Linked DNA regions of Homo sapiens: region 1 is linked to region 2. Evidence: fine-mapped expression QTL. Tissue or cell type: atrial appendage. Region 2 holds a variant in brackets; the other region holds the start of a gene. All regions are shown on one strand. Distances are from middle to middle. Region 1 holds the start of ECT2L (epithelial cell transforming 2 like). Region 2 overlaps ECT2L (epithelial cell transforming 2 like).

The links. PIP is the estimated chance that this variant, and not a neighbour inherited with it, causes the effect.
Region 1: it holds the start of ECT2L, and the variant in region 2 is the best candidate, but not a certain one, in a credible set for the expression of ECT2L in atrial appendage (GTEx, PIP 0.75).

Annotation. Positions count from the first base shown.
Region 1 is chr6:138,794,132-138,798,528 of GRCh38, forward strand. It overlaps ECT2L (epithelial cell transforming 2 like), which reads left to right and starts at 1,956. Exons shown (of 22, transcript NM_001077706.3): 1 at 1,956-2,061.
Region 2 is chr6:138,861,358-138,865,754 of GRCh38, forward strand. ECT2L (epithelial cell transforming 2 like) reads left to right here. Exons shown (of 22, transcript NM_001077706.3): 11 at 1,270-1,362; 12 at 3,639-3,821. Among named protein-coding and RNA genes, the nearest start is that of ECT2L, 67 kb to the left of the region's middle. The variant T/G (reference allele first, on the strand shown) is at 2,067.

The DNA.
Region 1 (4,397 bases), 67 kb before region 2:
ATTCATAGAGTTATATACCCATCACCGTGATCTAATTCTAGAACATTTTCATCACACTAAAAAGAATCCCATTAACAGTCACTCCTTGTCCCCTAATCCCCTCAGCCTTTGGCAGCCACTAACCTCCTTTCCAGCTCTCTGGATTTTCTATTCTAGACATTTTATATAAATGGAATCATACAATACGTGGCCTTTTGTGACTGGTTTCGTTTACTTAGCATGATGTTTTCAAGGATTGAAGCTTCATCCATGTTATTGCATGTACTTCATTTCTTGTTTTGGCTGATCATATGCCATGGTATGGATAGAACACATTTTGCTTATTTATAACTCAGTTACCTTTGTGTTGCAGAAGATGCTCATGCTTCTGTCTCCTTGTTTCCAGGCCACAGAAATAAGCACCTAATTGGGGGAGGGGAGGAGAGGGACTTACTGAATATTTTTCAAATCTTGATTTTAATAATTTTTGGCTTTCTGAATTCAAAGTATTTTGATCAGTAAATTGGTCTTTTTAATACCCCTTTTAAAAATTACAGCATCATGGAGGAAACTTCATTTGGGTTGTGAGAATAGGGATTTAAGGGGGAAAAAGTCGTACTCTAGGGTCTGACAGGGCGAAAGGACACTTTGTCATGTGACATGTTTTTCTTGGATTGGTCCTGAGATAGAGTAAAGCAAAAAGCTGGTTCCTGCGGGTTGTGACAGAGCAGTGGATTGACCTTGTTTATTCACTTGGTTCATTCGCCCTTTGTGTCACAGGGCCCTAAATGGGTCCCAGGTAGCGAAATATTAGCTTATCTAATTTGTATCCTTTCACACTCCTTAAACACATGTTCAAGGAAACAGGAAAAAATGCAGTGCCTGGATTAGAATAAAATTTAAGGCCTGGTTTGGTGACAGGCACCAGTACTTTTAGCTACTCTGGAGGCTGAGGCGGGAGGATTGCTTGAGCCCAGGAGTTCTAGGCTATAGTGTACAATGATGATTTTACTGGCATACAGATGAAAAAGAAAAAGATATTTGAAATAAAAATAAAAATATAGTGCACAATGACCAGGCCTGTGAATAGCCACTGCACTCCAGCCTAGGCAGCATAGCAAGATCACATTTCTCATATGAAACTTTACTAGAATGAAACTTATGGTTTATTACATAGATGTTGCTTATTCGTTGTAGGAAAAATTGAATTACAGATGATTTTTAAAACTACCAGAGCAAACCATTTAACCTATTTGTGTACATACTCCCAGATTTCTTACACACGTTGCAAAAAAAATAGATCGTACCATTCTGCTGGTTTTCTAAGCTGCTTTTTGTAAGTAATGTACTGTGAGCATCTTTTCATGGCCATAACTATTACATACAAAAGAAAAAAACAGGCTTCACAATAAATAGTTAAAAGACATTTTGACCTGAAACTAATGAAGAAGGGTTTTTTGGTTTTGTTTTTGTACCTCCTGTATAATGCTGAAATTGGTAATTCTGCAGTAAATATTAACATTTTCTGAGGATCTGCTGAAGATGAATGTGACAAAAAATAAGAAACTCCACTTTCCTCATCACACAGCCTTAATTAACATCGCTGGCTTTGTTTGAGATCAAGCAAACGTTGGCTTCAGTGTCCAAGTCTCTTCTTGGGGTCCCACGGCCTTGGGTCTGGCACCTCTGCTGGGCACCTCGCAGGGCTTCCGAGACGTGCCGCGACCCACGGGACCCCACGGAAGCTTTCTCCCACCGCAAGCTCCCTGGAGGCAGGGAAAGGAGCCGGGACCCGAGCCTAGCTGGCCTCAAGAGAAGGGCGGTGGCTCGCACGGCGCGGGCGGCTTTGCTCACTGCAGCTGGGGAGATGCAGGTTGGCCGTCCGGGCGCGGCGGCGGGAGGGGCTGCGGGCCTGTGGGGCGGGGTGGTGGCTCCGTGTTGTTGGATCCCTATGGAGATGACCCTGTCCCTGCCCCACCCCTCTCCGGAGCTGCGGCCCGAGTTGGCGCACTCGATTTTCACTGCGCGGTTCCAAGAGGAGACAGCCGCCACTGTACCGGGCCTCATAGCCACTTCCTAGAGGTAAAGCCCGTGGCTTCTGAGCCGCTAGTCTTTTTCTTGGGGCCGCCCGGGGCACATCGCCTGGGCCGGCTTAGTTTCCCAGTGCAGTCGCCCAGGAAGACCCTAAGCAGCGCTGAGGGGCGCAGGGCCCTCCCTCCGCGACCCTGGAGTCCCTTAGCAGCTCTGGAATTAACCAAGATTCTGAAGAGGCTCTGGGGAGAAACAAAATCCACGCGTAGGGTAGGGTTTGCATCGGGCCATGCCAAGTAAACTCTTACCTCCTCCAGAGAACTGATTTGGGATCGAAGTAAAGTTCTTGAACACTTTGGAAAACGCTGATTTTCATAGGTTCACACCAACTGCCTTCTTCCTTCTGACAGTTCTCTCCCTCTTTCCTCCTATGGGGTCCAAAAATGTAGGGAGTAGGGTGGGGGCTGGGTTGGGGGAATGAGGGAGGAATACAAAAAATCTACTGTGAATATAGGTCTTGGTTATAAGGATAGCTCTAAGAGTTAATATGCTAAGATTTGATGAGCAGGACAAATAAAACAGTGGTACTTTAAAATATCGATTTAAAAATACCGATGCTGTGCTTATTAATAAACTTTGCATATGTATCAGAACACAATATCCTGACATCATTGGTGTTAAAGTTCACTGCAACCCATGCAATTGTATCCAAGCCTGTTAAAGTCTGTTCTGCAGGAACTGACATTTGTGCTCCACAGAAACCTCAAAAATCATGCTCTACAAACACTTATTTCAGTGGGAGGAAGAAGGGTTAAGGACTTGGAAGTTTTATAGCAACAGTTGCATCTTGTTTGTTACAGCTTTAGTTTTATAGCTTTAAACTTATAAATCAGTGAGCACATCCACCATTTGAAAATACCAGCACAAGTATGGTATTTTCTATCACCGCCTGTAAGATCAATAGCCCAGGTTTCCTCAAAACACGCCATTATTTTCATTATCCATTGCTTAGTGTGTACTTAATAAAAATTATATACTGGCATGTAGTTTTACATGCCCTAAATGTGGGACATTTAACTCAACTGGAATTGTCTTTCATTTCTGTTTTTTCACCAATCACACTTACTTTTCTTCTACTCCCGTTCTTTTGTGCGATCTTTAGAACCAGATACCTTTTTGGAGGCATATTTAAGGAAGTAAATTTTTGATAAATAAAGGAATCATTGCACAATTTGCATGTGTGAATTGCAGAAGTACGCGCATGTAGGTACATACCTCTGCCGAGGAGCAGTGTTTTAATTTCTAAGCCACTCTGTCTACTGTAGTGGAGAAGGACCAGACTAACTTGCATTTCTCCAGCTGTATAACAGATAACCTGTGGAAACACAGTTAATTGACATCATTGCTCTTCTGTGTGATCCCAGTGAGGATTTAGCTCTCTATATGGGCTGGCAATTGTTCAGCCATTTCATCTTTTAATCTGGCTTTGGTTGTTCTGAGAGGAAAAAAAAAACAAAAAACTTTTTTCTCTTTACTCTCACACACTCAGTACAGCCCTTCACCTCTTGTCACCAAAATGTATGGGAATTTCTTCCCACCGACAACCAATTCTCCAGTGGCCACCAACTCTACGTCCTATAATTTAACCCAGTTCTGACACTGTGTACCTGGAGTTAGTGTCAGATCCCATACGTTCAGGGCTCAGTCCCAAAAGACTGCCCCCCACTTCAAATGCCAATCACAAGTCCCAGGTTGTGACTATATGTTGTTTATGATTAACCAACCAGTTACAAATCTGGATTCCCACAAGCCCCTCCTCCGGTTTGATTAATTTGCTAGAGTGACTCACGGAATTCAAGGAAACACTTTACTTATGTTTGCCCATTTATTATAAAGGATATTACAAAGGACAGATGAATAGCCAGATAGAAGAGAGGCCCAGAGAAAGGTATGTGGGCAAGGGTGTGGAACTTCCATGCCTTCTCAGCCCCTCCACATGTTCAGCTATCCCAAAGATCCCTGAATCTTGTCCTTTGGGATTTTAATGGAGGATTCATTCATAGGCACAATTGATGACATCATTGGCCATTGGTGATCACTCAACTTGAGCCCTTCTCTCTTCCCCAGAGGTCAGAGGATGGAGCTGAAAGTTCCAGCTGCATAATCACATGGTTGGTTTCCCTGGTAACCAGCCCCCATCCTGAAGCTATCTAGGGGTCCACCAAGATTCACTTCATCTGAACAAAAGATGCTCCTATCACCCAGGAAATTCCAAGGGATTTCGGAGCTCTGTGTCAGGAACTGGGGTCAAAAACCAAATATTAGAACAAAAGATTCTCCTAGCATCCCTATCTACAAGAGTTTTAGGAGCTGTATGTCAGGAACCA
Region 2 (4,397 bases):
ATTCCTATTTCTCCACAGCCTCGCCAGCATCTGTTGTTTCCTGACTTTTTAATAAATCACCATTCTAACTGGCGTGAGATGGTATCTCATTGTGGTTTTGATTTGCATTTCTCTAATGACCAGTGATGATGAGCTTTTTTTCATGTGTTTGACGGCCGCATAAATGTCTTCTTTTGAGAAGTGTCTGTTCACATCCTTTGCCCACATTTTGATGGGGATTTTTTTTTCTTGTAAATTTGTTTAAGTTCCTTGTAGATTCTGGATATTAGCCCTTTGTCAGATGGATAGATTGCAAAAATTTTCTCCCATTCTGTAGGTTGCCTGTTCACCCTGATGATAGTTTCTTTTGCTGTGCAGAAGCTTTTTAGTTTAATTAGATCCCACTTGTCAATTCTGGCTTTTGTTGCAATTGCTTTTGGTGTTTTAGTCATGAAGTCTTTGCCCAGGGAAGGGGCTAAATTTTAACCATCATATTCCATCCTGTTTTTAACTTTTTAAAATCTGTCCTCTTACAATGAGACTTCTCCTTTGAGTCAGACTATTTTAGAAAAAAATATATAGATTTTTCTCTTTCTTTGGGCTGGGTATTCCAAATCTGAAAATAAGCCTCAGATCAAACTCCATGCCCTCTTTCCCCATCCTGTAGTTTAGTCCTCAGACTGTTTCAGCTTCAATATTTAGGGGTGAATGATGAAGTGTTCATGGACTGTTCAATGGAGAGGTTTGAATGGAAGATGAGAACTGCTAGTGGCCTTTCTTGGCCATCTCTTTAGTGCCCCTACGTAATATTTAACTGCTCTGGATTAGTCTGTTCTTGCATTGCTATAAAGAAATACCTGAGGATGGGTAATTTATAAAGAGAAGAGGTTTAATTACTTCATGGTTCTCCAGGCTGTATAGGAAGCATGCCACTGGCATCTGCTTGGCATCTGGTGAGGGCCTCAGGGAGCTTATAATCACGGCAGAAGGTGAAGGGGCAGGTGGTGTGTCACATGGCAAGAGCAGGAACAAGAGAGAGGGAGGAGGTGCCACACACTTTTAAACAACCAGATCTTGTGTGAACTCAGAGTGAGAACTCACTCATCACTAAGGGGATGGCACTAGTTATTCATGAGGGATCCGCCCTCATGATCCCTCCTGCCAGGCCCCACCTCCAACGTTGGGGATTAGATTTCAACATGAGATTTGGAGGGAACAAATATCCAAGTTATATGATCTTCCATGGCAAAATATATGAGGAAACTAACGAAAGTGTTTTTGACTATGCAGAGGCAGGAATTGAAGTTCTTTCCCAGCTGTCTCAACTAACTGGCACGTTCTTTACGGCCCCCACTGGGATTGCAACTGGCTCTTACCAGCACAGTAAGTGTTATGGGAGCTGAGCGCCACGTCCAATAACACAAGCCAACTCCAGAATCACCAAAAGACAAAATCCAGTTAATAGTACTGGTATGGCTGATATCCATTACTCTCTTTCATTCCTCCCCTGAAGGAACGCTATTAGTTCCCAAACTAGGTAATCTCCTATCATTCAGTCATTTGCTTAGAACAGGATTATTTATTGCACATATTTGCCCCAAATCATCATTTTCAAAAACTGTTGAAAACATAATCTTTAGCAATTAAGCAAAGTTGCTGATCTAGAAAAGTAAGAAGTACAAAGAAAAACTTTTCTTAGTAACATATATATAGTCAATATGGTTTTATTTGGAAAAATAAATCGTAGCTACAAAGAGATGGCAAAGAGGCTGGCTTAGTTTCCATTACAGTAGCATTATCTGAGAGGAAAAACAATCAGAGAAAATACACCTGAAAGCAAACTTTCATTTAGATACTAAAGCTGCAAATTTAGATTAAAATGTAACACGGGCTGACCAACAACAGAACCAAATTGCTTTGTTACACCGACACCACTCATTTTCCTCTTTAAAACACCCTTGATTCCTATCAAGTAGGGCTGAGAGTGATGCAGAAACTATATAAATCATTGCTTCTCTACTCCTAAATGCCAAGGGCCTTTTAGAACTTGGGAAAGCTGGCACAACTGTGAAACTGGTAAGGGAAAA[T/G]ATTCTTTGTAGATATAACAAAAGTGCTTTGACCTAACATAGTTTTGAAGCAGAGGTCACTTGCTAATTTTAGTTAATATAGCAGCGTCACCAAACGGTAGCACATTTGGCTCTGCGGAGAGAGGAACTGGCCTAGCAGAGCACAGCAGGGTATGAACGCTGTTGCTGGTAATAGGGAACAGGTTTTCTTTCTTTTTTTTTTTTTGAGACAGAGTCTCACACTGTTGCCAGGCTGGAGTGCAGCGGCACGTTCTCGATCTAGGCTCACTGCAACCTCCGCCTCCTGGGTTCAGGCGATTCTCCTGCCTCAGCCTCCTGAGTAGCTGGGACTACAGGCATGTGCCACCACGCCCGACTAATTTTTGTATTTTTAGTAGAGACGGGGTTTCACCATGTTGGCCTGGATGGTCTTGATCTCCTGACCTTGTGATCCGCCCGCCTCAGCCTCCCAGTGTTGGGATTACAGGCGTGAGCCACCGCATCTGGCCGGGAACAGGTTTTCTTCTTTTTCTCCTCCTCTGCCTTCCTTTCCTCCTGTTCATCCTCCTTTTCCCTCTCTTGTTCTCATTCTCCGTATTTAAAAAAAAAAAAAAAAAAAAAAAAAAAGCATGTTGTGGCCGGGCGCAGTGGCTCACACCTGTAATCCCAGCACTTTGGGAGGCTGAAGCAGGCAGATCACCTGAGGTCAGGAGTTCGAGACCAGCCTGCCCAACATGGTGAAACCCCGTCTCTACTAAAAATACAAAAATAAGCTGGGCAGTAGTGGCACACATCTGTAATCCCAGCTACTCAGGAGGCTGAGGCACGAGAATTGCCTGAACCCGGGAGGCGAAGGTTGCAGTGAGCTGAGGTCGTGCCACCATACTCCAGACTGGGTGACAGAGCAAGACTGTCTCAAACAGAAACAAAAACATGTTGTGAACCTTTTCACATGTCTATCAGTAACAGTAGAGGAAACAAAGCAAATACACTATGTATCCATTCAGGACAGAAAATCAAATTTAACACACCACTGCATCATCCAGTAATTGTTTTTTAAGAAGAGAAACTTTCTTTAAGCACCTGCTACAGTCCTGTAGACAGATTTGTAGAGCGAGGTAGCAGTTTGACATAATTTAAGAAAGATAAGGATTTGGTGATGACAGGGTTGACTTCCATTGGCGATGACAGGGTTGACTTCCAATGGCCTGATGGGGAAGCCGTGTAGCGTGGGATTTCTTGTGTTTTCACTTTTAGACTGGAAAGATAAAGCAGTGCATTCTTCCTCAGATGACAGCTCAGCTTCCCAATGCACAATCCAGCAGCTGTTTTTTTTCTTTAAACATTGAATGGAATATGTCAGCCTCAGCTATCAAAGAGTAGACATGCATTTGAAATGATTCATTGAATCCTTTTCGAGTTTCTAATTTTACCTTTGAAAACAGAGGATGGGTGTTTGTCTTAGTCTTCTAATGAGAAACGATAATAAACTCAATACAAATGCAACTAAGATTTTGTTGTACTTTAAACAAGATGTAGAATTGTTTCATCTGAGCTCAAGCCTGCAATAATAACAGAAGAAAATCATGTCAGTTCTTAGTGATTGGCTGGGATCCCAATGGGGAAAGGCCCCCTCTTCCATCTACTTCTGCGAATCGAAGCTACAGACGTGGTCCAGCTTCACAGACTTCCTAGAAGAAACCTTGAAAACAGTAAGGAAGCAGCTGTATCCTTTCTTCAAGGAACTGCAGAAGAGCATCAGTGGCAGGATGATAGGTAAGCAGTCTTGCTACTTCTGTTGCAGGTTAATTATGAAGTTGCTTTCATATCCCGAGTAAATACAAGTTTAGTTATGGCGCAAGTAAAATTTTACTCTTGAACATCTCCAGTAAAATTTTATCTCCTAGGTTGCTCACACGGCCTTTCAAATATAACGAACAACCACTAACAACAAATATATTCAGGTTCAAAATGTTGAAGCTCGTTCTTATTTTAACATTTTACCACCTTATTAATTCTTGTTTGTCACTTATTTACCTAGACACAATTTGCTGTTTGCTAAGCCAGAGAGCTGTGCACTTTTCCCACTAGAATTTGCTCTGAAAGTTAAGCGCCTCTTATACCCCAGCACCTATTACATAAATTGTTCTACAATTAAAGTTCTATTTATTTTCTGTCTAAAATATATAATTCAGTGATGGGCTCCATGGGCCTTTGCTGAGCCTATTAGACGTGGTTGAATGAATGTTTCCATTCACACCCCAGCCCCATGACGGAATGAATGATCACAGCAGAGCCCTTTGAAAACAATTTACTTCCTCAACTTTGCATCTTTACCTAAATTAGTCCATT